Regions from separate parts of the Homo sapiens genome. Here regions 2, 3, 4, 5 and 6 are each reported to be linked to region 1. Evidence: microRNA targets listed by miRTarBase, many of them from high-throughput screens and not tested one by one. Region 1 holds a microRNA gene; each other region holds the end of a gene's coding sequence.
What was found. Region 1 holds the annotated microRNA hsa-miR-646 (AAGCAGCUGCCUCUGAGGC, at 3,356-3,374, shown strand). A microRNA usually pairs through its seed, bases 2 to 8, with sites in the 3' UTR of a target mRNA and lowers its output. Matches are read on the target gene's strand: a 7mer-m8 pairs with bases 2 to 8, a 7mer-A1 pairs with bases 2 to 7 and ends in A, and an 8mer does both.

Region 2: miRTarBase lists ZBTB44 as a target of hsa-miR-646. The part of its 3' UTR that is shown has no 7-base or 8-base seed match.
Region 3: the mRNA of BTG2 is a reported target of hsa-miR-646. Seed matches in the 3' UTR shown: 7mer-m8 at 4,395-4,401 and 7mer-m8 at 3,996-4,002.
Region 4: miRTarBase lists LIN7C as a target of hsa-miR-646. Seed matches in the 3' UTR shown: 7mer-m8 at 1,317-1,323.
Region 5: miRTarBase lists TMEM100 as a target of hsa-miR-646. Seed matches in the 3' UTR shown: 7mer-A1 at 3,936-3,942.
Region 6: the mRNA of PRDM4 is a reported target of hsa-miR-646. Seed matches in the 3' UTR shown: 7mer-A1 at 1,904-1,910.

Annotation. Positions count from the first base shown.
Region 1 is chr20:60,305,179-60,310,254 of GRCh38, forward strand. It overlaps MIR646 (microRNA 646), which reads left to right and starts at 3,296; the gene lies at 3,296-3,389. The region is part of intron 3 of MIR646HG (MIR646 host gene); the gene reads left to right.
Region 2 is chr11:130,228,595-130,233,670 of GRCh38, forward strand. It overlaps ZBTB44 (zinc finger and BTB domain containing 44), which reads right to left. Exons shown (of 8, transcript NM_001301098.2): 7 at 4,714-4,788; 8 at 1-3,121. The coding sequence ends at 4,762. Among named protein-coding and RNA genes, the nearest start is that of ST14, 71 kb to the left of the region's middle.
Region 3 is chr1:203,306,944-203,312,019 of GRCh38, reverse strand. BTG2 (BTG anti-proliferation factor 2) reads right to left here. Exons shown (of 2, transcript NM_006763.3): 2 at 2,418-4,916. The coding sequence ends at 4,582. Among named protein-coding and RNA genes, the nearest start is that of BTG2, 4.0 kb to the right of the region's middle. RefSeq lists a cis regulatory region at 1-335 and enhancers at 3,339-4,281, 4,626-4,865, 4,282-5,076.
Region 4 is chr11:27,494,528-27,499,603 of GRCh38, reverse strand. LIN7C (lin-7 cell polarity scaffold C) reads left to right here. Exons shown (of 5, transcript NM_018362.4): 4 at 36-245; 5 at 800-5,076. The coding sequence ends at 955. Among named protein-coding and RNA genes, the nearest start is that of LIN7C, 9.7 kb to the left of the region's middle.
Region 5 is chr17:55,715,982-55,721,057 of GRCh38, forward strand. It overlaps TMEM100 (transmembrane protein 100), which reads right to left. Exons shown (of 2, transcript NM_018286.3): 2 at 3,646-5,076. The coding sequence ends at 4,685. Among named protein-coding and RNA genes, the nearest start is that of TMEM100, 4.3 kb to the right of the region's middle.
Region 6 is chr12:107,729,783-107,734,858 of GRCh38, reverse strand. It overlaps PRDM4 (PR/SET domain 4), which reads left to right. Exons shown (of 12, transcript NM_012406.4): 12 at 337-1,988. The coding sequence ends at 649. Among named protein-coding and RNA genes, the nearest start is that of PRDM4-AS1, 4.2 kb to the left of the region's middle.

The DNA.
Region 1 (5,076 bases):
GTGAAGGTGAGGGACTGAGACTGTCAATGCAAAGCTACTGTTGCTCTTAAAGAGCTTACTGTTTGGAAAACTTGCCAAAAACCTCCAAGAAGGTTCTGAACTGGTAGGTGTCAACCTTGCAACACACAGTTTGGTTCAAGGCAAGTCTTGTACAAGAGGACTCATTGATACCAGAGGCCAAGGCAGGAGAATGGCAGGAGTTCAAGACTAGCCTGGGCAACAAAGTGAGACCCAGTCTCTACAAAAATAACAAATAAAATATTAGCTGGGCATGATGGCATGCTTCTGTAGTTCCAGCTTCTGGAGAGGCTGAGGCAGGAGGAGCGCTTGAGCTGGGAGGCCAGGGCTACAGTGGATGAGCTATGATCACATCATTGCACTCCAGCCTAAATGACAGGGCAAGACCCTGTCTCAAAAAGATAAAATAATTTGGAGACAATATCTGGCTTTCTTCATACTTAGCCCAAGGCAACTCAAGTGTTACATCTAAGGCCGTCTCGGAGTTCACTTGCATCTTTTCTATCTCCCTACTTCTGGATTCCTTTGAATCTAGCATTAAGCCAGGAGTCTAGATTATTGATTATTGGTTATTTCACTCATTCCCACATCTTAATCGTAGCCTCTTATGTGCAAGGCAGCTAGCCGTTGGGCGTTGGGAGCCAGACAATCTCCTGATTTTTACTGAATTCCCCCACACTGAGAGTCCCAATGCCAAGTCTCTGGAATAACCCTTCTGATGCAGTCATCCAAAATCTGTCTTCACAAGGGTTTCTGCAAGGCTTCCCTCTGCAGCTTCCTCACATCTCGGCTGTATGTTGTCTACGTGAGGGGCACAGGAGATCGGTGAGAGGCATCGAAAGTACCAGAGATGCTCACTCAGAGCCTTAGAAATGCCTAGACCGTTCCTGGTGCATAGACAGCATCGATATTTTCGCTGCTCCATTTTTACTGCAACAAATATGAACAACAATTAAATCCATTTTCGTGGGATAATTGCCTGCAACCTGATGTCCTTGTAAGACACATTCTGCAACTTCAGTCATGTGGATTACACAGCACTATTTAAAACCTTCCCATTACCAGATAAGGTGGAGGGAAGGAGGAAAGAGCCAATCCATGGCCAAGTCCATTCCTAGATTGTCCAGCCTTTTGTGTCTGTTATTAAGCCCTTCAAAAGTACACTGCTTCCCTGGAGAGAAAATATATTTACATAGTTCCCAATCACTCCACCAGAGCAGCAGTGGCCTCAAGATAAACCTCCCAGCACCAGGGAAGAGGGGATTACACACACCACAACGAAGTCCAATTATATTGAAAACTAACAGCTAAATTTCTCTGCCCCTGCAGTTCCTAGAGTGTGAAGAGAGAAGGAACAAACGGAAGAAAAAAATTGTTGTAGCGCCTTAATGATGAGTGTGTGAGAAGCAGCCAGTTCCCTGTTCCTGCCGTTCATTTTCTGTGTATCGGTCCCTAACGAGGATTGGCAAGATCTGGAGATTGTCCTGGTCCCTCCTCGTGCCCTCTTTCCCTTATTCAAAGCACTGTGAGCCTCTCTTGCTTGGTTCCAGTTGCCTTGGAATGTGTTTTGGAAGAAATGTCCTGGATAGTCTCCAGGCTTCTTTATATTCTTTCTTTTTAGTAATTAACTTTGTATTGAGTTCTCCCACCAAAATGAACAGCCAGGCCTTCCTTCCAGATAGAAATTGTGGCAAGAAACAAATGGGAGTTGAAATAAATAACATCGTGTTGCTTGATAAATGTATTTGCAGTAGCAACAGAGACTGCCACCCAAGGAGTTCTAATTACGAATCTGACCCTGTAGAGCCAATGCCACAGTTGCTACAGAAAATAAATAGGCTAAGCAGGGCCTGGGGTTGGTTATTTCCATAGACTTGTCCTGGAAATGTTAATCAAAGCAAACCAGAGGGAGCAGGGAGCCAGGGTTATTCTGATAGTGCTAAAAAAATTAAGTTCCCGGCCGAGCGTGGTGGCTCACACCTGTAATCCCAGCACTTTGGGAGGCCGAGGTGGGCAGATCACGAGGTCAAGAGATTGAGACCATCTTGGCCAACATGGTGAAACCCCGTCTCTACTAAAAATACAAAGACTAGCTGGCATGGTGGTGAGCGCCTGTAGTCCCAGCTACTTGAGAGGCTGAGGCAGGAGAATTGCTTGAACCCAGAAAGCTGAGGTTGCAGTGAACAGAGACTGCACCACTGCACTCCAGCCTGGCGACACAGTGAGACTCCGTCTCAAAAATCAAGTTTCTGTTAGCCCTTTGCAATCTGGTCATAGTTCTTTCTCTCTTCCTCCCTCACTCTTTCTTTATGGAAACTATGCCTACCTGTGTATTTTCTTTGTGAAATATGATTTCACACTTTAGCTTATAAAAGAGGTTTTGCCAGGTGTGATCGCTCACGCCTGTAATTCCAGCACTTTGGGAGGCTGAGGAGGGTAGATAACTTGAGGCCAGGAGTTGGAGATCAGCCTGGGCAGCATGGCAAAACCCTGTCTTTACTAAAAATACAAAAATTAGCCGGGCATGGTGGCGGGCACCTGTAGTCCCAGATACTCAGGAGGCTAAAGCAGGAGAATCACATGAACCTGCGAGGCGGAGGTTGCAGTGAGCTGAGATCACACCATTGCACTCCAGCCTGGGCGACAGAGTGAGACTCTCTTCTCAAAATAAATAAAAGGGGTTTTAAAATTTGTTGTGGGGGGCGGGGAGGATTGGTAAAGGCTAGGAAATTCATTTAAAAAGAAGACCCAATGTTTGTCATGGCATCTTCAACTTCCACCCTCAGGGATGGAGGGAGATGTGCACTTGGCCTTTTCTAGTTGGACAGGTGTGCAGGTGAGGGCAGGACTCCTGGGGGCTTTAATCGGCCAGGGTTTGCCTGGTGCACACTGCCAAGAAGGTGAAAAGACGCAGGATAGGGATCTCCTATAGGCGGTAAAGGGATGGGTCAGGTGTAAGTCATCACACGCTCCTAAGCCCTGAGCAAATCACCCAGGATCCGGTGGAGATGACATTGTCATGACAATTCTGTCCTTCCTTCTGCCTTCCACGCACCAGGTAGAGGGGTAGGGCGACTGTCAGAGTTCACTCATGACACAGAGCCCCTCTGCTGGGTCAAGCAGGAAGGGATTCAGGACCGGGAAACAGATGCTTACAGGTCATTGTTGAAAGTGCTGAGGAGGGGCTCTGGCTGGCTCCGGGTTTTCTCGAGCACTGTGTAGCAAACCTGCCAGGACAGCACTGACTACCACAGCCAGGACAGTTCAGAAGCCTGGAGATCAGGAGTCTGCCAGTGGAGTCAGCACACCTGCTTTTCACCTGTGATCCCAGGAGAGGAAGCAGCTGCCTCTGAGGCCTCAGGCTCAGTGGCCTATCTTTACCCCAATGCATGCAGGTCAGAATGTAGCTGAACAGCAGCCCAGGGTCCTGCCCTGCTGCCAGCGGGAAGAAGAAAACAGCCAAAGCAGGAGGTGATCTTACCTACCCCTCCACCTCCACCTCGGGCCCAATTTGCATCCTGAGTCCCTGCACGGGGGCCTGCCAGGGGGACTTCACATGCTCAGCTGATGCAGGTGGAGGGGAAGGGAGAAGGCTGCCTGGATGCGGGGCCTGTCCACCCCTTCCACCCCATACAGCATCTGGTTCTGGTGTGGGTCCTCTCCTCCTCTTTCTCTACACACACACACACACACACGAGAAACACGCAGTCTCACACGTCTGATGCTGCCCCACACGTGTCGCCAACATCAGCCTTTGTCCAGCCTCAGCCTCTTTCCTCTCTGAGGGTTTGGCCACATCCACTGGCACTGCATTTCTTCCCTGCAATTTTGCTACGTCTAAGTATTGTCTCTATTATGATCTAGTTTTTGTCACCTTAGTTGACTTGTTAAGCTGAAATAGTTATTTCAAAAGGAACCAGTTACACAGATGGAAAGCCAGTGTCATTTGTATTAATAGGAGATAAAGGAATAATTAATACAATAAAAAGGGAATGCATCTTTATGAAATATTAATTATCAAAGGATCTGAGTCCAAGGACTGTGCTCTTTACTGAAAAGATAAATGAGTAAAGTGAGGTGTCAAAGATACATTATTCTGAAACTGAGCCTTTTTCATCAGATGGATCAAAAAGCAATTACAGTTGAGCCTTGAACAACAGGGGGCTTGATCTGCATGGGTCCCCCTACATGCTGGTGGTCTTCTACCTCCGCCACCCCAGAGACAGCAAGACCACCTCCACTTCCTCCTCAGTCTACTCAATGCAAAGACCATGAGGATGAAGACCCTATGACAGTCCACTTCCACTTAATGAATAGTGGAATATGAACAGAGAAAATCTATATGAATAGAGAAAATCTATATGAATAGAGAAAATGAATAGAGAATATGAATTGAGAAAATCCATTTTCTCTTATTTTCTTAACATTTTCTCTTTTCTAGCTTTATTGCAAGAACACAGGATACATATAACATACAAAATGTTTTAATCAACTGTTGGTTATTAGTATGACTTCCAGCCAAGAGTAGGCTATTAGTAGTTAAACTTTTGGGGAGTCAACAGTTACTTGTGGATTTTCACTTGTGCAGGGGGCGGTGGAGCAGTTGGTCCCCTAATCCCCCACGGTGTTCAAGAGTCAAATGTGTGAAAGGGTAATACACATTGCTGTGCCTGCCAGCTGAGACGATACAGGACAACAGTGGTCATCAGCTTATACTTTTTCATTTCTCATTTAATTTTTCAAACTATCCTGGAATACGTATTATTCCCAGTTTAAGATGGGGAAGTTGAGATGCAAGAAGAAATTGGACACGGTTCCAGATTGAGGAAGTGGGGGTGCTGGACCTGTACCCAGCTTCTTGACCTGAGTCCTGGGGGCTCCATATGAATCAGAAGGGGGCAACCGTGTGTCAAAGCCCTCAGCTCCCAGCATTAGACTCATGCTTACGACATGCAGCTTTCACCCCTCTTTGATCAAGAGAGGGTTTCTTCTGTAATGTTTCCCCCATTCTGAGATCTCAAGGCAGTTTACCTCAAGGGACATGGTGATGGCTCTTTT
Region 2 (5,076 bases), not on the chromosome of region 1:
GTGCATTAAGAGGAGAGATGACAGGGCTCCCTTAAAGCAGGAAGATTTATCCTTCCTCAGCAGGTGATGTACTTTGGTAACCTCAACATTCATTTATGGGATGATTTTTCATCTGTTTTATTGAATAATGAAATCTAAATGTGGCTAGATTGGCATTTGGGAAAACAAGGGCCTTTTAATAAAAGTCCTGACACTGGAGCTCCTCCCACCACTAGGCACCAATTTTATCAGTATATCGCCACAACCGTGCCTGGGACTTTAAGCTTCATCAGCAACATCAGTCAATTTAAACGAGAAAGGAACTAATAAAAGAATTTGACTTTATAAACCAGGTACTTTGAACAAAAACTAAAAATTTTAAAGTTAAAAAAAGTTTTGTTTTTAATCCGCAGTCCTTACTCTTAAGTTCTCTGTAAACTATTATGCACACAGAAACCTTGGTATTAGCTGAAGCCGGCCTGGGTCTTGCACAGTGGGGGTTTACTTAAGTAAAAGTAGCACAAACATTTCAAAGACAATCTCAATTTTTCAGATACTGCCAAACCGAGATACCAATAACATCTGAAATCTTTGCAGAGACTATTTATAAAAACATGGAAGTGTTTTTATTTTCCCATCATAAAAATATAATCACGATAGAGTGGAAATGTCTAACTGTATTAGTTTAGTAAAAAGTTAAAAAAAAGTATGACCACTGATGGTACTGGTACTACAAGTCTTCATCCCATAACTGACACAGGCTTAACCCCCCATAAATATTACAACATCTCAACTTATCTATCGTCTAAAATGAAACATCCAGAGAGCGACTGTTCTTAGTTGAGCCTGGGATTGAATCAATTCCACTTTATTGTTTAATCTGAACCATTATTGCTTTTGGCTAATTCATCTTGCTGAGGACTTTCCAAATAAAAATACTCTGTCACCATACTGTCAAGCAAAAACGACAATGAAAGATAAAAATGGGTATAGGCAAAATAAGGAACAACTTAATTTAAATGTTCATAGTTTGAGTTTAAAGCCTGTGGGAGTATGCTTAGTTTTAATATTCCTCATAGACATGTTTGCCACAACAGAGCTTCCTTGTTACCCCAATTTTGTTTCACTGCTTCAGAAAAGAAAATTTAGCTTTTATACATTCATCTCTCAATAACTTTCAAAATCTAAATATATTACAAATAAAGCATCTTACGTCAATAACTTACTTACAGTGAAAACTACATTTATTTATTACCTTCTGGCAACTTTGGGTCTGTTTCTTCTAACTGTAAACTTCACACTAGTTTTTTTTTCCCAGTTAGTATTAATATTTAGAAAATTTTTAATTCTCATTCACTTGGATGTGTATTTCAGAATTACAGCTTCATACTTTGCAGATGACTGAAACAAAGTAACATATGAAAGTTTCTAATTCTTTTGTTCATTCCACAAATCTCAAACTTCAGCTAAAATATTAAAATTTTAGGATTATTCATTCAAGTAATAAGTCTCTGTTACAGAATTGCCACATTATACAGTAATGTATTTTTCAAGGACTATTAAAGCTAAAAGGGACTAAAACATAATCTGAGAATCTTCAAGAATAAAAGCTGATAAAATAGATAACTGGCCTCTATTTAGATTAAGAGAAAAAATTAGAAATAAAAGACTGAAAGATTTAATACAGCTTCCAAAGGCTCCCAAGAGAACCATTTATAAACTGGGAGAGTCTCCTGAACCAGCCTATTAGTTAGAAGGTAACTGAGTTACCAATAATTATGGACATCAGATGTATTGACTAGTCTATTTCATTTGGCAAAGTATTTTAACAAGATGAAAGTTTTTTTTTTTTTTTTTTTTTGCTAGTTATTAAGAACAAAGGGCATGTGTCGTAACAGGGGATCTAATTACTGTAAGCCAGAATGATTGCTGAAATGTCAAAATGTAAGATTGAATGAGGCTATTTAAACATTTTAGTATATTTTGTCTTACTGAAATTGATAAAAAAAAAAAACTGGCAATGTAACTAAATGCGTAACTAATTACTTGAAATAAAAAGATTACTTGAAATTCAAATTAAGAAAAATCCATTTAAATATATTTGTGGGTGATAATCTCCATCTGCATCCATTTATATAAAACTTAAAATGCCAAAAAATAAAGACCAATATTAATCTCTTTATTTCTGAATGAGATGAAATCACTGACATGTTTGATGCTTCCACTATTAGAATATACCCTTTAAACACGAAAAGAACAACTGCAGGAGCTTTAACATCCATTATCATGGGTGAACATCTTTGTTTACTTCTAAAGTACATCACACCTATTTGGTAGTTAAAAAACTGAAAATAAAAGCTTGTACAAAATGCTTGGTTTTAAAAAGGCAATTTATTCTGCATTCTGAAATTTAAGCCCTTTAGATACCACAAAGTTACCCTCCTGGCCTTAAGAAAGATAGCTACGTTTAAGCACTCTAAACTGGAATATTTATGTTTAGTTACACTGGTAATTTCTAATGAATGGGATAATATAACTGGCTATCTCTTTGCAATATTTTCAATATGTCCTGGTAAAAATTATGCATCTAGGCATCCCTAAGATGAATTTGAAATAAACCTAAATACTACTATATATACAATTATCCCTTGCAAATCTGTTTCCTAAAACAGATCCATAAACAGATCCAATATCCTTAAAGTACATATATATCAAGAAAAATGTACCCTCACTGAAATAGAAAAAGGCCTTTATTTGTATCATTTTATGTTAAATACTGGTTAGTTACTGGTATTGATAAGATCTGGGCAGCAGACAACTAACCAGATATGCATTTTCACAGTATATTCAGATTTCCCATAAAACTTGGCAATGTGTATTACCAGTGAAAATCTAAAGTTTCTACTTGGGAAGGAATACCCAGTGATGGGTAATCCCTCATTCTGAGAACACAGTCAGAATATCTTGGAGCTACCAACATTGTGCTTGGCTCTTAATGCGAAGTTTTCAGGGTTGGGGATGTGCTAAAAACACTTTTAACCAATCAATCTGCAAACCATTCTTACACGTTTCTCTTCTTTATTCTTCTTTCCTTCTTTTCTTTTTTCTTTCCTCTTGCTCTTTCAAAAACCACCTCTTGGAACTAAGGGTAACAATGATTCCTGGTCATAATTTTACCTATTCTTGTCAATACAGATTTTAAAATTAATTTTGAGATTTATCTATTGCTAGGCCTAACAGTTTTCAAAGACCACAACGTAACATTAAAATTCCTGACCTTTCCAGTTGAGACACAGCAGTACTATATGAAGTATTATAGTCTGCTGCAGAAAGTAATGCAACCCTATCAGTGAAGAAGCATAAATGGTGGGAGCCTATCATAACCTGTATATGCTGATTCTCCTGAAGGGAACACACCTATGTTTGGCAGCAAATGGGTAAAAACAAGTTCATGAGTGAGGTAAAGAGTTGAAAACAAGTTAAGGACTGCAGAATATGGGCAGACACAGAGAATCTTAACCTAAAACAGTTCTAAGGAATTTAATTTACTTTTCCTTTCTTCACATGTTTTTGGGGAAAAAATTACAGAATTAGCCAATCTAAAAAAATGAAACAAATCACTATAATTAAAAATATATACATTTAGTATGGTCTAGCACCTGAACAAAATTCAGATCTTGTGTTTTGACTAAAGAACTGTATTTTCTGTCTATCAAATCAGGTGCTCTCATAATTATTAAACTTTGGGTATCTACACAGAAACTTATTCCAAAGTTCACTGCTCATGGACTTACAAATATTTAGGATCAATATTAGAGATGCTTTAATGGCACCAGATGAAAAGTATACCCAAGTCTAGAGGATCATACAAATTTCAACTACAGACCAGAAAGTTTCATATTTTTAGCAGCAGAAATAATATTCATTAGTTTAAGGTTTTCAGTTTCTCATTAGTCTTAATAATTTTTTTCTCCCAGATTTATGAGTCATAGATGAAAATCTTACAGTCTATACTCTTCATTGTTGCCTACGTTGTGTAAAAACTATAGTTAACTGTTTTTAATAACTTTGCAATGTCTAAAAATAAATATGTAAGGACAATGTATCGCTGTCATATGGGATTCAGTAAACAATCTAGTTGGGTTAAGAATGCAGCCTTGGCCGGTGCAGTGATCCCAGCAGTCTGGGAGGCCAAAGGAGGAGGATCACTTGGTCTAGGAGTTCAAGACCAGCCTGGGCACCATAGTGAGACCTCATCTCTACAAAAAATAAAAATGAAGTTAACCAGGTGTGGTGGAGCATGCCTATAATCCTAGATACTCAAGAGGCTGAGGCAGGAGAATGGCCTGAGCCCAGGAGTTCGAAGCTGCAGTGAGCTATGACTTAGCCACTATACTCCAGCCTGGGCAACAGAGTGAGATGCCATTCTTTTAAAAAAAAAGAAAAAAAAAAAGAATGTAGCCTCAATAGAGAATTATTTATTATGTCCAAAAGAGCACAATGAAAACATCCCCAACAACACATAAACCTATATATAAAATATAGAATATCTCCAGTATTTTTACTTTATATGGCAGCACGCCAATATATGCAAGAGAACATATTGATGGGGCAGGGGGAAAACTGATCCGGGCAATGACACAGTCAGGCATTACATTCGGAGACCAGGTAAACAGCAATTTTAATCTGAAAAGCAGTATGAGAAGAGTTCCTATGAAGCTGGGATTTACATACTTCATTCTCCGTTCCTGGTCATTTCATCCACAGCTTGACTGTTGTCAATCATGGTTCCTTGCCTTTGGAGTGGTACTATAAAGGTACAGAGAATGCCCATCTCAGTACCAAAATTTCACCATGAAAAATCATAACAGAAATGACAAAGCTTAAAGAAAAGTACGCCGGATTTCAGAAGTATTTACCATAATAATTTTTAAGAAAGCTTACCATAAATACTTCCAAAAACAACAGGCTTTACAAAATATTATACAACATCCTGTGTACAGCAGTAAGTATCTACTCAGGCCATTTGTCAAGCTGTTTAGTAATTAGTTTCTCATGTACCCTCTTGTCTCAAGAAGGTCAATAATCATCTGATTT
Region 3 (5,076 bases), not on the chromosome of region 1:
ATCTGCAGCATGCAGAGCCTTGTCTACACTCTCTGGGGAGGTGCATTATCATTCAAAAACAGCTGACTGACCACAGGTCTCCCAGGCTGGCACTGCTTACCAAGTGGAGAAGATGGAAGCAGAACAGACCAACCAATGCCTAGTCCCTGAACACATGAAAGCCACCAACTGCAACTCTTCAAGCAATTTCAGGCCAGAGCCCCTGTAACCCCAGGTAGCCAATGGGTATGCTCCAGTTCTACTGAAATTGGTTCATATCAAAAAAGAAAACACATTGCTTGACCACAGAACCCTCTCATGTAAATTGAGGGACTACTAGTTTACCAACAGCCGAGAGTGGCCCTGAGGTGAATCTGCCATGCTGTGGCTTCCCTGACTTGAAGACACACGTGGGTGAAGGGTCCCCTCAGTCTCCAGACAACCTTCCCCGAATTTCAGGCTTTCCACTAAACAAGGAAATATCCTTCATGAGCTAGGCCTTTTAGGAATCAGGAAGATAGATGCTGACTTTGTACCATACACTCAAAAGAGGGTGGGCAAAAATTCCTCAACCCTAACTAACCCTGTCCTTACATCCAAAAAAGTAGGTCTTTTTAAACAAGTGTCTAGGACATTTATTTCAGAAGCTACAAATAAAAATGGGACTACTCCTTTCAGTAACAACCCCTTGATACAATGAGTCTTAACCAAATTCTATTTATGATACAGATGACCTGGCCTTCCCTAACCCCATCCCTGGCTCCCCTACCCTCCTCACTCAACACAGGCATAGCACACACAGCCTCCCTGGGCTACTTCCAACATAGCACATCTAGGGAAAACTGTATGTTTGTTGATAAAGGTCATGGAGGTAAGAAATGAAGTTGGGGGAGTTGTCACTGTATATGAAGCAACATGTGTAAAGTTTAGTTTAAATACAGGTCACCGCCAGCTGCGGTGGCTCACACCTGTAATCCCAGCACTTTGGGAGGCCGAGGAGGGTGGATCACCTCAGGTCAGGAGTTCGAGACCATCCTGGCTAACATGGTGAAACCCCGTCTCTACTAAAAGTACAAAAATTAGCCAGGCATGGTGGCAGGCATCTGTAATCCCAGCTACTCCAGAGGCTGAGGCAGGAGAATCACTTGAACCCGGAAGGCGGAGGTTGCAGTGAGCCAAGATCGTACTACTGCACTCCAGCCTGGACGACAAGAGCGAGTGAGACTACGTCTCAAAAAAGAAAAGAAAAGAAATAAATAAATAAACAAATAAATACAGCTCACCTACAGCCAAGAAAAAACTAGACCAGGCTGGGAATGTACTTGCCCTCAGTGGGAAACTCTGGGCTTGTGTCAAAAATCTCATGGAAAGAACTCAAAAGTCAGGGAAGATAAAAACTGTTATTTCCTTGCATGTAACCAAAGGGAGTTACAAATTGGTAACAAACTTTTGGCTCTCACTCCAGTGTTTGCTGTCAGAAGTAGCTGCTCTCTAGCTAACCTGTAGCATTGGCATTCAGCTCCAGTGCATAGATCCTGAGGCCTAGCTGCTCTTGTCTAACAAGACAAGTATGGTGGATAGCAAATGACAGCCCCAGAGATGACAAGAGCACCTTTTCTGGGAATTGCCAACAATCCTGCCTTAGCCTGGGAAGGAGTTCATTACCCGCTGCTTACCAAACCCTGGTCTGTGAGACAGGCTGTGTCTCAAGGATTTTTAATAAGTTCAGTGCCTAGCACTTACTGACAATACATGCTTGCTAAATGAATAACTGACTGAATGAATGAATGAATGAAATGAACGACTATCAAAAACAAGATGCATAAGATGGAGATCTGGCTAGACTAGGGAATGTTCAGACTAGAACCCTGTTACTTCTAGCATCTTCACAGGGAAATTAGAATCCTCATTAAAGGTGGAAGTAGGTTGGGCGCGGTGGCTCACGCCTGTAATCCCAGCACTTTCGGAGGCAGAGGCAGGGGGATCACTTGAACTTAGGAGTTTGAGACCAGCCTGGACAACATGGCAAAACCCCGTCCCTACAAAAAATACAAAAATCAGCTGGGCCTGATGGCACATGCCTGCAATCTCAGCTACTCAAGAGGCAGAGGTGGGAGAATTATTTGAGCCCAGGAGGCAGAGGTTGCAATGAGCTGAGATTGCACCACTGCACTCCAGCCTGAGTGACAAAACTGTCTCAAAACAAACAAACAAACAAACAAAACGGAGGGAAGTAAGGAGCTACTTTCCAGGAAAGAGGGGATGCTTGGAAATGGCCCAGCCATACAACCAGATTTTTCTTTTATACCACCCACATGCTATAGATTGTCTGAGTGCAAGTGAGGAGAAATACTATTAAACACAAAGAAAGGATTTGGATCTGAAAGGGAAACACAAATGTACAACGTGAGGATTTTAACTTCTCTACACCACACAAGTTTATCCTACTACATTTTTATTAAAGTAACAAAAAGGTGTACATTTGTCCATAAGCTGTACATTCTTCCATATAAAAACACTATCATACAATTAGTAACCTTTGTCTTTTCTGTCAGAATAGCTTACAAACATACTACTACTATTTATTTTTACTTAATAGGAGAGACAGGCCTGCTCAACAGTCCAGCTCAGGGGTTTTGTTGTTTTTAAAGTGAACATCATAAAGAAGAGAAGAGAGACAAGATTAAGCATGAGACCATGAGGCTGCTTCTAAAAAGGCAGGGACCTGTTTGCAGACAAGATGCAAGAACACAGCCTGCAGTGATTCACAGCTTTGTTTCAACCCACAAACCAGAAAATTAGCTCTTGGGTCTGTGGGCCCAAAGTGAACTTTAAAGCAATAAAGACTGGAAGCAGGTCTGGGAAGGCAATACAAAATGTGGAGAGTTGAAAAGGAGGCAGAGCTGGCAGGAATGGGTAGGGAGAGTGTTTGGTAAATAGCACCTTTGAGTCAAAATTGAGCAGTTTAGAAATCCAGGAAAGGGGACTGGCTGTGGGGAGGAGAACCTGGGGGTAGAGGAAGTGGGGTGAAGATTCCTCACTAAGGGGCAACAGCAGGAGGGTGGCCATCCTGGCCAAATGCCCTAGCCCTGTCCTTCTTAAGGTGATTCGGTTTGGGAAACTCGAGGTCTTTTGAGGACCCCTCATCAATGTCACTGAGAAATTGAAGGAAGGGAGTTTCTTCCCAGTGTAGCTTTCCACTTTTCTCCAACCCACAACAGTATATATTGCACAAGTCTACGACAAATTTGGATTGTACTGAGACAGACAGCAACCTTTCCCACAGGTGCTCTGAGCACCAGGGAGAAAAAACAGTGCCCAAGGTTTGGCTTTTATTTAGTGTCGGCCCTACAAGAATACCAAGTAGTCTTGCAGAACATGGGGCACTCTCCCATTCAGCCAAGGAATACATGCAAGGCTGACTAGCCAGCCATCATCCCAAGGAGAGCAGGAGAGATGGTTCCCTAAGCCCACCAGGGCATCAGGAGGTTCTGATAGCCAGTTTTCCTCCAGACCCTCCTGGGACCCAGGGGGCATATTGCACAGTGACTGAGAACTCTTGTCCTAGAAAATACGGTAGCTCTATGACCCGACCAGAAGGGAAGGGGGAGGGGAGGGTTAGAGGAGAGTTGTGCTTTTGAAAAGAAGGCAGTAATAAAGGACCTGGAGTTCCCTGTAGCTTTTGAGCCACCTCTCAAAGGGATCATGGCAGCAGCATCAAGACTTTCATGTGGTTCCAAAAGGAAGAGTTTTGGCCAAAAAACATCCCCAGTGGATACTCTTTGGGTCCCAAAATTTCATTGCAAATCACCCCCAAATTATTTGCCACACATACACACAAAGCAGCACTAGCAAAGCAAAGGTTTTGTGCAGAGTTCCCTTCCATCCTAACCCCAATAACCTCCAGTTCCCTCCTCCCCCCCCTCAGAAAACCCAAAGCTTTAGATTCCTGGCTGGAAAGCAACATCTACAGGCCCCTGAGGGTAGAATTAGAAACAAGTCATGATTTCAAGAAAAGCAGCTTAGGACAGTAGGAATCAGGAGAGGCCTTTTCACTCTCTGCCCAGGACCTCATTAGAAAAATAAAAGAAAAGATAACATAGTATTGTTTAAGTCCAGGCATGAATGCCCCTGAGTAATAGAGGAGCCAGGGATGCAGGTGTCTGGCTGGGGGAGACAGAGAGCTCTGAACTTGGCCTCTCTTCCTCCCCCAGGGCAAATCCCGACCTCTCTGTTCACAGTTGCTAACCTTGCTTGCTCCCTCTCACATCTTCCTGGGGTGCTAGCCAAACGTCTCCCACTTCTCCTTGGCTAGGTCTACCCCCTAACAGCTCCCCCTCCTATAGGCAGACACTGGCTCACAGACTCAAGCACGCAACAGTTCTCTCCAAAGGCACCTGGGGAGGCCACTTCCAAGCAGCTCCCTTGAAGGATTTTTTTTCTTAAAAAAAACTTTTGGTTTCTTTTCCTCCTTTCTTAAAAAAAAATAATATATATAAATAGCTCTTCATTTAAAAATACAGTTCCCCAGGTTGAGGTATGTGGTGGCCTGTTGTCACGGCAGCATGAGCACGGCGGCGCCCAGGGCGGGGGCGGAAGGGCCTAGCTGGAGACTGCCATCACGTAGTTCTTGGAGGGGCTGCTCCGGCCCAGCAGCACTTGGTTCTTGCAGGTGAGGAGCCCACAGGAGGCGGCCAGTGGGGCCTCCTCGTACAAGACGCAGATGGAGCCGTCCTCCCCAATGCGGTAGGACACCTCATAGGGGTCCACCCACAGGGTCAGCTCGCTGGGCAGCAGCTGGTGCAGCTGGGGCTGGCTGAGTCCGATCTGGCTGGCCACCCTGCTGATGATGGGGTCCATCTTGTGGTTGATGCGAATGCAGCGGTAGCCGGAGCCCTTGGACGGCTTTTCGGGAAACCAGTGGTGTTTGTAGTGCTCTGTGGAGACAGGACCAGGGGCAGATGCCCTGGTTAGAGCAGCTAGGCCATGGATACTACCATAGGGCGGGGTGGAGGGTCAAGGGACAGGAGGAGAGAAAGGGGCCCTTTAAGTAAGGGAGGTGGATTCCTCTGAGTTCTAGGACCCTCTTTCCACTTA
Region 4 (5,076 bases), not on the chromosome of region 1:
AAGTCATATTTTTAATATGTAAAACTTTCTTTCAGGCTACTGTTGCTGCATTTGCTGCCAGTGAAGGACATTCTCATCCTCGAGTTGTTGAGCTACCAAAAACAGAAGAGGGCCTTGGATTCAATATTATGGGAGGCAAAGAACAAAACTCTCCAATCTATATATCCCGAATAATTCCAGGTGGAATTGCTGATAGACATGGGGGCCTCAAACGTGGAGATCAACTCCTCTCTGTTAATGGAGTGGTAAGGATGAATTTTATTTCTATTTGTAGTGATCTGTTGTGACCACCTGGGGGCGTATTTGAGTAATAGGAGAAACCTAAGAAACTTGTGGTTTAGAAATGCCTTGAGGGAATCCTAGGCAGTACTATTAATACAGTGATCCTTTTTTTTAAGCACTATAAGTGTATTTTGCAGTGTAAATTAGCAGTGCTTAATGTCATTTTTATGACATAAGCTCTTTATTAAAGGCAATACATTAAATTAGAAGTCTACCCTCATTTTACTCTTATAAAATGCCAATTGCTTGATCTACTGAAATAATAAGGCATATAGATTAATATGCTAATTATTTGGAACTTAAAAGCCAGCTTTTAGACTATAAACAGAATATGATGTAAGAGAGGATTTCATATAGATTAAAATGGTAAGGCAGGATTATTTCTTAGTTTTGTAATGTTGGAATAATATAACATTAAAACTTTTCTTCATTATATATATTGTAAACATTTTTGCATTTTGAGTTACTTTCAAAACTTAGATATTAGTGTATGGTTGGTTGTTTTTTTTTCCCCTAGAGTGTTGAAGGAGAACATCATGAAAAAGCTGTAGAACTGCTGAAAGCCGCACAAGGAAAGGTTAAATTAGTGGTACGATACACACCCAAAGTCTTAGAAGAAATGGAGTCGCGCTTTGAAAAAATGAGATCAGCAAAACGCAGGCAACAGACCTAATACATTTCAAAACTTGATATTTCATTTTGCGTTTTAGCTAGAGAAGTTTTCCTTGTGACTTACTAATGGCTGCAATGCCAATGATTGTAAGAAAACAAACAAATTTATCATGAAATTCTCCTTGTCATTTTATAAATGCCTATTTTAACATCATTTATGGTTCCAGAGATGCATACACTTTTTTCTGACAAGAAAAAGTAAAAGGTGATGAGGGCAATTCTGTCCTACTGTTTTTACAGGCCTTTTTCAAATGCAGATTTTGTCATAAAGTTGTTATAGATTTTTTAAAATGCTTTTTTAATATTAAAATGTACTTTTACATTCTTAATCTTTTTTTAGAAAGGAAAAGTTTTCTTCATTTAGCTGCTGATTTAAAAGTAAAGTTCTCCAATTCTTTTTTTTTGCTTACTCTATTTTTTTTAACCTGTGAAATTTCTTTACAGTTTTCCAAGAAATTAAGCATAACAGTCTCATCTACGGCAGTTCATTACACTGTCAATGTTAACATCATTGCTGCATTTTGTACTTTGAACACACACATAATATATATAACCAGTGGTAAATCATGACTCAGTACAGTGCAAGTTTTTTCACTTTTACTTAAACATAATATATAATGGATATTCATTTATACTGATTTATGAAAGTAAGTTTTTAAACACTGAAACAATCATTGCTAAAATACATATTCTTAATATTTGAGCATTGAGGCAAGAGGATGTAATTGATAGCATTACTTATTACATCCCTATTTATGTTCAACCGTACATCAAATTATAAATGCAAAACAGGTTCAGATTTCATCTTTTGTGATTTCTTTTAAATACTATTCATTTTTATTTAAATGCACAGTATTTCCCCTATATTTTAGTCCTTCCATTCCTAGAGACAAACCAGTTATTTGGTGGTGGGAAGTAGCTGAAGCAAAGAAGGAAAAGTAATACCTTTAACCTCACTAGCTTCAAGAGTAGACATTCTTACTAGCTCAATTTAAATAATTGATTTTAAATAGGAAGAAAAGAGGATATATTTAAGATACATAGAAATTATGATGTGAAGTATTCATGAGAATCTGTAGATTCCATCAAAATAAGTAGGAACTCATACTAAAATTGTTGGATTTAAAGAGGCAACTTTTGTTTATGATTCAAATATGGGAATTTGAGAAATATTTCATTTGTCCACTGGATGTCACTATTTTACTAAAAGGCAGCTATTAGTGTGGGACTGTGACTGAGGTCTTAAAGACTGAAAGAGTTGGGGTTCATTTTCTGTTACAACTTACAGGAACATTTGTACTTTAAGAAAAATTTAAGTGACAAATGTTAGAAGATGATGGATTGAAAAATATAAGTAATTTGGCATATTGACCCTATATAAAAAAGTGGGCATTTTGTAACATTCCTTCAGGAAGAATAGAATTGTATGCTTTTTTCTGCATGTTTGTGATCACTGTGAGTCTCAGATGATTATTCCAGTTTTCAATGATTTTTCAAAATAAAAGTCAATCAGCATTGTTATTTATCATTAAGGTATTGAACACTGGATTGCATGGTTGAATGTGTCTTTAATCCACTACAAAATGTGCTTGTTATTGATAGGATCATGTTGTTAAATTGTAAATTTTCAAAATTAATTGATGTTTTAAAAATGTTGAGACCAAAGTAGTATAGAAGTATGGACTTAATTTAATTGTAAAATTATTAGAGGTATTTGTTGTAGAGCTTTATATATTAAAGAGAGGTATTGGTGCATATAAAAACAGTAATATTATTGTTATGCTTGTATTCTTGCATTTCAGGGTAAGTAAACCCTGAAGAAATCTTATTTTAGTATAGCTACAGCTGCAGTAGCTTTTAAGTATGTATCAACATTTCATTATAAATTATAGCTTCCTGGTTCTGTGTCTCAGCTGTTTCAGAACTTTCAGCCAAGTTAAATCTTTTTTGGTGTTGAAACTTTTAGTAAGTTGAGTAAGCTATTTTTTTCCCTACGGTAATCCACAATCTGTTCTTTGTGTGGGTTGACACCTATTTATAATTCTTAAAATAAGGGTAGCTCAAAGGAGCCAAGTACAGTAGTTTAGCTTGCTACTGTTGAGCATGAATAGCAGTAGGTTGTTTTCATTAATGCAGTTTTCATAATGTATCCCAGAATTTTAAATCTTGACCATAGAAAAATACAGTCATTCATTGGCAAAGATGTACAGTGGTGGTTTAGTGCAGTGAGGAAATGATGGGAATTTTTATCTTAGAAATGGATGATTCGTGAATAAAACTAGGTACATAGTAAGTGTATGATAGATGTTTGATTTGTAAATTACAAATATAAATTATCACCCCCATTTCCATTTATTTTCTTGATATATCAAAATGTGTTGACTTAGTGATTCTCAATCTTAGCTACATATTAGCCTGGCAGAGCTTTAAAAAATTGATACCTGGGTCCTATTCCATAACAACTAAATCAAAATCACCCTTTTTTTTTTTTTTGTAAAGCTTTCCAGGTGGTTCTAAAGGACACCTAGGGTCAATAACCCATTATAAAATGATCTGATTACACTGGACACTCTTAGGAAGTATCAAAATAGAACAGTTCAATTTGCAGCTACTTAATGATTAATTACATTTCTTAGGTTTTTTTTTTGTTTTTTTTTTGGTTTGTTTGTTTTTTGTTTTAAAAGAGACAGGATCTTGCTTTGTCTCCCAGGCTGGAACACAGTGGTGTGATCATAGCTCACTGCAGCCTGAAACTCCTTGGCTTCCACCTCAGCCTCCCAAAGCATTAGGATTATAGGCGTGAGCCACTGCACCTGGCCAAGTAATTTCTTTTAGGAATAAAAGGTACTTGGCATTCCTTATTTGGGAAGTAATTACAGTCTTATCTTTTTTTTTCTTTTTTCTTTTTTTTAATAAAATCTACCAGTAATTTAAATGTGAGCTTTTTATGTCTGTCATCATTCTGCCCCCTTTGCCTTTAAAACTTACAAAAATACGTGTTTGTTATTTGAGAAAGCATGTTTAAAAATTGCAGATGAGAAATATTGTCGTTAATAATTATGTACTGTCTTAATGTGGGCACTTCATTTGTTAGTATAATACTAGATAATAGCAGCCTAGTTCTTTAGGATTTGACGATTCAAATTTTTTTTTTGTTTTTTGTTTTTGTTTTTTTTTGAGACAGAGTCTTGCTCTGTTGCCCAGGCTGGCGTGCAGTGGTGTGATCTCGGCTCACTTCAGCCTCCGCCACCTCAAGGCAGTTCAAGCAATTCTCCTGCCTCAGCCTCCCGAGTAGCTAGGACTACAGGCGTGTGCCACCTCTCCCGGCTAATTTTTTTGTATTTTTAGTAGAGACGGGGTTTCACCGTGTTAGCCAGGATGATCTCGATCTCCTGACCTCGTGATTCGCCCGCCTCGGCCTCCCAAAGTGCTGGAATTACTGGCGTGAGCCACCATGCCCAGCCTCAAATATGTTTTTAAAAAATATCATTGTCCTCCTCCTCTTAAGATTTTTTTAAGTTATTTTGCTCAAGTACTTAAGTAGTCTGGCTCAAGTACTTTGTTTACAATTAAAATGGATATTATAGCATTTAATAGAAGAAATGGTTATGGCTTATCCAAAAAGAATGTCAGCATGACCTGGTGTAGACTTAAAAAACTACATGTTTGTGAATATTTTATAATGTGGAATGATCATTGAAATATCAAGGATTCTAGTAATTGTATTTCCTGAATAAATGTATGTTTATGAATTTTCTAACTTACATTTTGTTGTGTCCTCTGCCAACAATCTGGTTTTATAATTGTTGTCTAAAGTTTGCTAGTAGTGTTTCTTCAAAGGTTATTCCAGGTATGGTTAAGTAGTGAGAAAAATCACTTATTAATTTTCAAGAACTTTGAGACTAATTTGTATTGACTCGGTTTTTTAAAATAACTGGCAAATGCTATGCTTCTACTTTTAAAATTTGTGGTAATACCCAGAATGGATGTAAAATAACATTTTTCAATAGATTACTTCATTTATCAATTTAATTCTGATTTTAAGGCTTATTTAAAATAAATTTGTATGAGTTATGTCCTCGTTCTTTGGATTTGAAAAAAGTTGATATAACTACACAATAG
Region 5 (5,076 bases), not on the chromosome of region 1:
GGGATCATGTGATACCGTTAGAGGCTGGCTACCAAAAATACTATCTTCAGTCATTAAAAACTAGAAACTATCCAAATGTCTATCAACAGTAGAAAGACTAAATAAATGATACTGTATTTGTACAATGGAATTCTACACAGCAATAAGAATGAACCATTTATAACTACGTACAACCATATAGATTGTAGCTCATAAACATAATGTTGCAAGAAGAAGCCAGGAACAAATAGTATACTTGATACGATTCCACTGATGCAAAGTTAAAAAACAGGCAACACAACTCTGGGTGTTAGAGGCCACATAGTGGTTTCGCCTGGAGAGATACTGATGGAAAGTAGATACAAAGGGAGCTTTTGGGTGCTGGCAATATTCAGTATCTTTGTCTGGATGTTAATTCCACAAGTTTATAAAAATTCATTGAGCTGTACAACTTTCTCTGTGTAAATTATACTTTAACAAGAGTTTTTCAAAAGTAGATGTTGTAATACCTGTATTGTCTCCTTTTGCTAAAGAGACATTCTGGAAATGATTTTGGTTATGGCTAAGCATAAAACTGGGTGCTATAGGCTGGGCGTGGTGGCTCACACCGGTAATCCCAGCACTTTGGCATGCCAAGGCGGGCGGATCACGAGGTAAAGAGTTGGGGACCAGCCTGACCAATATGGTGAAACCCTGTCTCTACTAAAAACACACACCAAAAATTAGCCAGGCGTGGTGGCGGGCACCTGTAGTCCCAGCTACTCAGGAGGCTGAGGCAGAAGAATCACTTGAACCGGGGAGGCAGAGGTTGCAGTGAGCCGAGATCGCACCTTTGCACTCCAGCCTGGGCGATAGAGTGAGACTCCGTCTCAAAAAAGAAACAAACAAACAAAACAACTGGGTGCTATAGACTGAATGTCTGTTCCCTTCCACCCCCCAATTTATATGTTGAAATCTCATCTTCAATGTGGTATTTGGAGGTGGGGCTTTTGGGAGTTTATTCGGTTATGAAGGTGAAATTCTCGTGAATGGGATTACCACCCTTGTAAAACAGGCCACAGAGAACTCCTTTGCCCCTTCTACCATCTGAGGGCACAGCAAGAAGGCTTCACTTATGAACCAGAGAGTGGGCCTTCCGCAGACATGGAATATACTGGCACCTTGATATTGGACTTCGCAGCCTTCAGAACTGTGAGAGAGAAACATTTCTGTTGTTTATAAGCCACCCAGTCTATGGTACTTTTGTTATAGCAGCCCAGAGGTTTAAGACACTGGGGCAACTACAATGTGTGGTCAACCTATTGTTCCTGGTGCTAGGCCTCGCCTGCTGTGAGATCTTAGCTGAACAGTCCCTTAACCTCTCTGAACTATAGTTTCCTCAATTGTAAAGTGGAGTGAACACTTATACTCCCAGCCTCAGAGTGTGGTGAAGAATATCAGGTACAGTTGAGTGCTGTTACACTATCGAGCACTATAATATCAAGATCTTCCAAGTTCAGAACCGTAATACTTGCCTGGAGACCAGAATATGTATCGCCTATTTAACATCTCTCTCACCTGTATTCCTCTCTTTCTCTTTAGGGATGGTGGGGGGGAGCGGGTGATGGAAAGTAGGTTTGAGGCTTTGTGATCTGGCTCTCTGGGGTTCATCCTTTGGCCTCAAACTTCTGTGCTATCACGTGATCTCCTTGTGCAGTTTCTCCAGGCAGGATTCCCTAGATTAACCAAGAGAGTAAGATGGGGAGCAGAGCCACCATACAGCTATGATTCTCACCTGGGCCAGAGACCAGCTGCACAGAACAAGGTTAAAAGTTGTTTCTGTGCACTCTGGGATGTCTGTGTTTAGGGGGAATTCCACTAGGTGATATAGCTGGTTTCTGATATTCTAGGGAGGAGTCAGATTATCTTTTTAATACATTTATGCATGCATTTTATATGCATTCATTTATTTTCTGTCGCACCTGCATATTTGTATATAATACAACCATTTGTAAAGATAGACCTTACCCAATAAAAACATTTTATGAGATAATTGTGATAATTTGTAATCCCAATTTGAGTTTATTCTCCTCGTGGGAGTTGGGGTTCACAGTGTGTAGAACTATCTCTGCGCCGTGCAGCTATGTAACAGTATATACCTTTTAATGTGACTAGAAGCTCCCTAAATGGAGCAAGTCTTTCCCGTACTAACAGAACCCCAAGATAGCCACTGTGAAGTGGCTTAGGGAAGTGTGTAAGGGTGGGATAAATGGAGAATCTCCACCAACTCCTCACGTTTAGGAGAGATTTGATCCCATTTTGGTTATTACAATTTAGGTCTTTCCATAGAACTGTTTCTTCTGGGACTCAAGTAGCTGCATGGGGCCCCCTGGTGGCCGGAAATAATTCATGAGTTTGCTTTTCAAGCATTTTGAAGGCCAGGTCAGGCTAGAGAAGAATAGAGAGTAAATATTCGCCTCCAACTGCTGCTTACAGTGGAGGTGTAATAGAGAGTGAGATGGCCTCTTTGGGGGAAAAATGAGAACTAAACTTTTTTCTTTAACGAGATTAGAATGGACTATAATTCTGGATAAACCATTCACTTTCTGATTTTTTATTTTTTGGCTCATTTAGCACCTTAATTAGGTACTTATTGAGTACTTAATCTCCGTAAGCCATTATGTTAGGCATTTCACTAGGGTTAAAAAGAGGATCTATCACACACTTCTAAGGAGCTTTGGAATAAGGATAAAACTTATGCCACCAACACGACAGAAAATAAAAGATGCCATCAGAGAATAAAAGATGAACTCACGAAAGGGCATTTACTTTCAGATAAAAGGGAAGACTTCCGGGAAGAGGTAGCATTTGAGCTGAGTGCTGATGAGAAGCAGGATTTGGGGAGATTAAAATCAAGGAAACAATGGCACTATAAGCGAGGGAAAACACAAGTTTGGACAGACATGGAGGCAGGAAAACCAAAGTCGGGTGCAAGAATGGTGAATAGTCTATTCTGGCTAACTCATAAGGAGGTTTGGGGATTAGAGTGAGTATGAAAACTGGATACGTCCTTTTGGATCAGACTGGAGAATCTTGAACCTTGTCTGAGTAATTTCTTAATACAGCAATGCGGTGGCGGGGTGGGGGGTGGGCTTTGAGTATCTTTGCACGGAGAAGAGGCATGTGAAGGCACAGACTCACTTGCATTGAAATGAGCACAGCCCCCTAAACTTGCATTTGGTTGGGAGGAATGTTGATCTGTACGTGACACCATCTGACCTGCAAAGTCATTTTTAGGGTGTTTCCACTTACCAAAACTACCTGAGCATGAGGGAGTAGTAAGGGCCCCAGGGCTCCTGTCATGTTTAATTAAATTTCTGGACAGAAAGACTTTCAATGAGTGTGCTATGCTAGGCTGATTTTGTTTTCCAAGTTTTAAGAAACCTTCATGCCTATCTTTCGATTCTAGCTTAAGGTGGTTTAAACTACATGAATGAGCTGTATTTCTGGCTGGAGTTACAGGGTAGAGTCCTAGCTGTGGACTAGCTCAATGTCCACTGAAGAATTCAAGCAGTAACTTTATTTGCATTGTATTAGATCTAACTGAGTAAGAAACCTGAGAATCTACATTATGCCTGGCATATAGTTGGTGCTGGCATACGTGTTAAGCAAATAATTAACAACTGATTCCACAAAAATGTAATATACATTTAATAGCACATTATAAAGTTCCTGACCAAAGACGTTGATTTCCTAATTATAATAGCACAGAAATCCTTTAGAATTTAGTAAACGTAATTAAGACTATTCAGAAGTAATGAAAAACCAATATGATAAAAACAAAAATCCTCCAGTAAAGAAGGAACCTGTCCATTTGAGAGAAATACAATTGAGAACTTGCAAATGAGACAAGGGAAGATGGCAATTTGGAACTGCAATAGAAATAACTATAGCAGAAACAACCATTTAAGAAGTTTTAGCAGCAATAAGTATTTATTATTCTGAATGAAATGTACAGTTGACTTTTATATAAAAATCATCAAAAGTGCTATATTGGATTATTTTACTATTAATTTAACCCCCAACAGCATCTATTAGCTATAACTTTAATGGGTTTTTCTTTACTTCTGATACATCATTACAACTGGCTAACACTGTCCAATGTTAAAATATAAAAAATATTACTTTTCAAGATAAAGTACCACCAGTGATGAGTTATTAAAAGTATAAAATGAAAACAGACGCCAGTGAATCAATGTATTGAAAAAAATTATCACAGAATTTCATAGACATATGCGAAACCCAAGGTAATTTAGATCCTTGGCAGAACATTTTTATGATACATCTTAAGACTGTAGGTTATTTCTTTTGGAGGCAAATGTCTAGTGTGCCAGGCCTATCTTGATTTTTCTCATCTTTTCTTGGCTACTTTACAGGGTGAACCAAATACTGTCTAATGCTGTGCACTCCCATGACCCCCAAAGTGTTTCATGTAAATAGAAAGCTGATTTTTCAGTCTCAGAAGTAGCCCTTAGGGTTAAGTTTGTCGTTAAAGAAGACATGAGTCATTCCTCACAAAGGAGAAGCCCCTCCACCCTCCCACCCCCATTCTTCCAGTCTGCTCCAACGCCAAGTCTGTTCTCTCCCACCATGGTTCTGGGTGAATTGGGTGACAAAGTCAGAGCACGTTTTCCAGGCCCAATGGCCCATTTGGTCGTATTCAGTCTCAAGCAAACAAGCTTCTCTGATTTGCCACGAGAGCTGTTTGACTCTCCCGTCTCTTGGCTTTCTTGCTCCTTTGTCTCACTTTCCAGCACAAGGCACTGGAGGCTAGTAAAAAAAGTCCAGATGACAGAACAACCAGGCCAAAGATGGAGATAATAGACCCATGGGAATTGAAGCTGTAAGCCACCGCGGTGACCACGATGCCGGCGATGAAGACAACCACAGCAAAGGGGATGATGCAGCGGTAGCAGGAGAGCTCGGTACCCCCTGTAGCAGCCATCAACTGAATCTCACTGACCAGAGGGACTGTGGTGATCACAACTTCACTCTTGGGGCTCTTCTCCATCGTCGCTGCCATGTGAGCCTTTGGGGCTCCCAGGATCTCCTTGATGG
Region 6 (5,076 bases), not on the chromosome of region 1:
AATAGTATACAGCAGTGGAAGGGAACAAACAACTGATACAGCAGCTTGAATGAATTTTATGAGCATCATACTGAGAGAATGCAGCAAGACAAAAGAAATACATATAGAATTTACATAGAATTTGAGAATTTACATAGTATTCTAAAACAGGAAAAATGAGCCTACACTGTTTTAAACTATACATGTTTTATGAGTCTTCTGTATATCACCTATGCAAAAGCCTGATTCAGAAGGATAGAGCTGCTCTGACAAAGGCCTGCGGCTATGAAGAATAAGTGTTGCCTCAGTTGTTATTTGTAACCCCAAATCAAATGTTTTTTCTTGTGTTCCTCTTAGAGAACGCCAGATCAAGTGTCCCAAGTGTGATAAGCTGTTCTTGAGAACAAATCACTTAAAGAAGCATCTCAATTCTCATGAAGGAAAACGGGATTATGTCTGTGAAAAATGTACAAAGGCTTATCTAACCAAATACCATCTCACCCGCCACCTGAAAACCTGCAAAGGGCCCACCTCCAGTTCGTCAGCACCAGAGGAGGAAGAAGAGGATGACTCAGAAGAGGAAGATCTAGCAGACTCTGTGGGGACAGAAGACTGTAGGATTAACAGTGCTGTGTATTCAGCGGATGAGTCTCTTTCTGCACATAAATAAAAGGAAAAGAAACAAGCAATTTTGGATGAAAATGCAAATGGAAAAATACACATAACCAGTTATCTACTATAATGGTTTTTATATAAAATGGTTCCTGATTTATTTTCAGCCAGTAATCAAAACAGACTGGGAATGAATAAAGCACTTACAGAAGAGTATCCTAATGAAAACACTTTAAAACAGATTGGGAAAACTGAGCATGTGTCCTGTTTTAAGTGGTGGACTGGGAGGGAAGTGTCAACTTCTGAGGTCTTTATTTACATGATAATCTGGGAGATGCATTTATGCCTGAATCAAAGCTGCCTTCTGCTCAAACAAATCAGATTTATTTCACATTCTTCCATTATTCCATTTTCCTGCTGGTCCTGTGACTTGGTAACATTCTAAACGGTCCTTGCCCCATAGCCATCCTGATTGCTGATAGTGTTTTATGCAGACTCTTGTGACTTATACTCACCACAGAATGGATTGGGACACAGCAGCATAAGTGTGCTACTTGGCAGCTAGTAAGTTTAAAGCAGGACCTGCCTTAACTGCTCCTGGCCACTTGGAAGTTTAGGGTAGATCTTGTTTTCCAAAGTTTCGGCAGGTGCCTGGAGGGCAAATAAAAAAGCAGCAGTCAGTCAGTAGTCAGTGATGGAGAGAACAAGAGGAGAGATGCCTGGCCTCTGCCCAAGAAATTAGCTTTGATGGAAGCCTGAGCAAGTCACCTGGTTATTGTAACGTGGAGATCTTTGTAGGTTTAGACATGGCTCCCTGTCTCCAGTAAACATCCAGCCATTCAGACAAAGGGGGCCTGGAGATACAGAGAGCCCAAATAATGCCTGCTGGATTGTCTCCTGATGAGTACATGTGGACTCACCTGAGGAAGGGAAGGAAGGGAATAATCTTTTATGTTTCATTTACCTTATGAAAAGTGTTAAAACATTGCCAACTCAAAATAACATTATTTAATGCATGTGCAAAGTTAGGTCTTCCCAGTTGTCTCAGTGCTGAGGAACCTCATCAGAGAAGCATGGAAGATGCCAAAGGATTTTTGGAAGGTAAAGAAGGCTGAATAGTGACCACATGGGCCTGTTTTCAGGGTCCCAGCTTAGTTAAGTCACCCATGCACCTGGTCATTGTGTCTCCCATGCACATCCAGCGTTTCTCAGAAGCAGACCCACCCTTAAGTTGACAGGATTGATGGAACATGCTCTCCTGCTCAAGGCACAACCTCTGGGCTGGAGTAGAGGACTCTGGTGGGAAGGTTTTGCTGCTAATGTATTTATGGAATGAATGTATTTCATTCAAATCTGTATTCCTCTAGGAAGGATTAAAATTAAACTTTTTTAAAATACAGGATTCCTCTGGTAGTCTCATTTCATGGAGGAAGGAGATGAGTGAGTCTTCTAGGGAAAGTCAAGTACAATTTGAATCTTTCTGAGGTTAGAAGAAGAGAGCATTTCTAGAGTATTTTAGCTTTTGAGATCATATTCTTATTGTTTCTGCTGTTAGTACTTAAGACAAACTGCTTCCTGTGCTTCCAACCCTCTTCTGCCCTGTTCCTGCCTAAGGTATGCCTTTACTCTGTTACCTCCTTGGAGAAATGTGGCAGGTCTGCAGTGGAGGGTTGGGGGATGTGTTGCGGATGGTTAGGGTTGGCTGCTGACACTGGGTCGTGACGCCTCCCTCAGGGCAGCTCTGGTTCCTAGGGCAGCTTCAAACTCAGCATTTTGCCAAAGGCATCCAGCTGGCTGGTTCCCCCATACCCAGGAAACCACTGGTACTGGGACTCTAAGCTCCCTTTCTTCCTTTATCTCAGTAGCACACACTGGGTTCACTTCCTTCATTCCCAAGACTGAAATGATGCCCAAGATAGTTACGCCTAGTGTCAGAGGAACACAAACAGCAGAGGAAGCTTGGAAACCTTTTTAGTGAAGTTGTAGCTGTTAGTGCTTAGTATTTACAACTGTCTCTCCATTTTTTTACCTCTTAATTTTAAATTCTAAGTCATTTTCACAAGATGAATAAATAAGTAAGTGCCCTTTGACATGAATGTTTTCAGCCTTTTCTGCCCATTTTGGGTGGCCTTGCTGCTGTTGAGTAAATGGTCACGGTGAGAGGCAGGATGTGTATGTAGGCTCTGGAGCCCTGCAGAATGTTCTCTAGTGTGGGCTTTGCTGTGTGATGAAGGTTTGTAACCTTGGCCAAGTTATGTAAGCTCTCTATGCCTCTTCCCTTAACTGTAAATGGAGAGTATTAAGAGCGCCGCTTCATTATACTGTTTAGATGTTAAGTTCATACGTGTCAGTGGCTCCCACAGTGCTCAACATAAACAGTAGCTGATATTCTTTAGTTTCCCATTAGTCTACATTTTTCATTTTAACATAGGTTTCTACACTAAAAAAAATTGACATATAGAATATCCAAGAAGCTCTAGATTTTAGTAATATAAATAAAACTGGAATAATTTGAGTTTTCAAGGCCAAAGCCTATAAACTAGTTCAGAGTATTCTTGCAGCTCACTGTATGCTTGGCATTTCCTTCTCAAAAAGGTCAGTGGCTCATAATCCTGGCATTTTTGTTGTGCTGAGATTCTCAGAGGGCAAAGAGGTAACAGGAAGTAGAGTCTTCGTCAGCCTTTTCACGCTTGACCTGTGTCCCCGCTTTCTAGTAAACACTCCTTTACCTGTGTCTCAAGAAGCATAAACATGCCAGAGGCTGTCAGCACCTCATCAAGTATGTAAACTTGATGATCTGATCACCAAACTTGGAGGCACACACTAAGGAATGACATATCTCCATATACACAAGTGATTATGGTCTGTTACAGGTGAACACACCGCCCCCTGCCAACACCACCAGATTCATATGGTGAAGTCCTAACCTCCAGTAATCTCAAAATGTGATTGTAGTTGGAGATACGGTTTTTAAAGAAGGAATTAAGTTAAAATGAAGTCCTTAAGTTAGGACCTAACCCAATATGACTGGTGTTCTTAGAAAAAGAAAATTTGGACAAAGCCTTATACAGAGGGAAGATGATGTGAAAACAGGGAGAAGACATTTCCAAGCCCAAGGAAAGAGGCCTGGAACAGGTCCTTCCCTCACAGCCCTCTGAACAGTCCTGCCATTGCTTTGATCTCAGACTTCCAGCCTCCAGAACTGGGAAACAATACATTTCTGTTTAGTCTTCCCGGTCCATGGCAATTTGTTGTGGCAGCCCTGGCAAACTAAACAGTCTAACCAGATATACGTTCTTGATAATGATTGCTTAAAGGGGAGCAGCTTCCAGTATAGTGACTTCAGTTTAACCCCAGCTTTACAGATTAGCATGAGCAATATAAAGGCAGGCACCATTTCTAGTGGTGTATATTGCCGCCAGCAAATTTCCCTACTACTGAAAGGGGTGAAACCACTCCTTAACAGCTTTTTTGCTCCTTAGCTTTTCTTGCATATGCACACTGAGGATCATTAGGCACTCAGGCCTGTGTAGTCCTCAGACAAGGAGAGTGGTCTTTTCAAAAACCATTTATTAAGTGCTGGTACACTTTAAGGCATTGTAGGGGGAACAGAAAAATAACTAGGGCTCTGCTCCTGCCTTTGGATACAGGTGATCTGCCTGCCTCCGCTTTCCAAAGTGCTGGGATTACAGGCATGCGCCACCGTGCCTGGCCCAGGCTACAAGTCTTTAAAGGAAATCACATAAACTCTAAACTATTCCATTTAGACAATGCATATTTATATCCACAAGTTAGGGAGCACATGGAAAGCATGCTTTGTTCTTTGTGTTTTCTGCCCCCAGCACCTGCCTCCTCACCCTGCAGCACATCTTGTGCTGCTACATACTTGCTGAGGCTCAGGCTGGGCATGGGCTTTGGGGTTGGGCAAGCATCAAGATCAGTTTAGGGCCAGATTTGGGAAAGAAAAATCACCTAAGGTGAAAGTCACTTACTTTGGGAAATTTTACTTCTTGAATGATCTGTTAATTGGTTAATAGACACAACTTCTGGCCCCTCTTAGCTAGCACTGCCTAGGACCTTGTGACACATTTGCTTGCAAATATGCTTTCTAGTGGTAGTACATTTTAATTTATAGTTTTACTCCTCATAGGGCATTATAAAAGTAGGCTTTACCCTCAGTTGTCTAGATGTTGAAAATGAAGTTCAGAAAAATTACACTTTTCACACCTGTAATCCCAGCACTTTGGGAGGCAGGTGGATCACTTGAAGTCAGGAGTTCCAGACCAGCCTGGCCAACATGGTGAAACCCTGTCTCTACTAAAAATACAAAAATTAGCTGGGCATGGTGGTGGGAGCCTGTAAATTCCAGCTACTCAGGAGGCTGAGGCAGGAGAATCACTTGAACCCAGCAGGCGGAGGTTGCAATGAGCCAAGATTGTGACACTGCACTCCAGCCTGGGCAACAAAGCAAGGCTCTATCTCAAA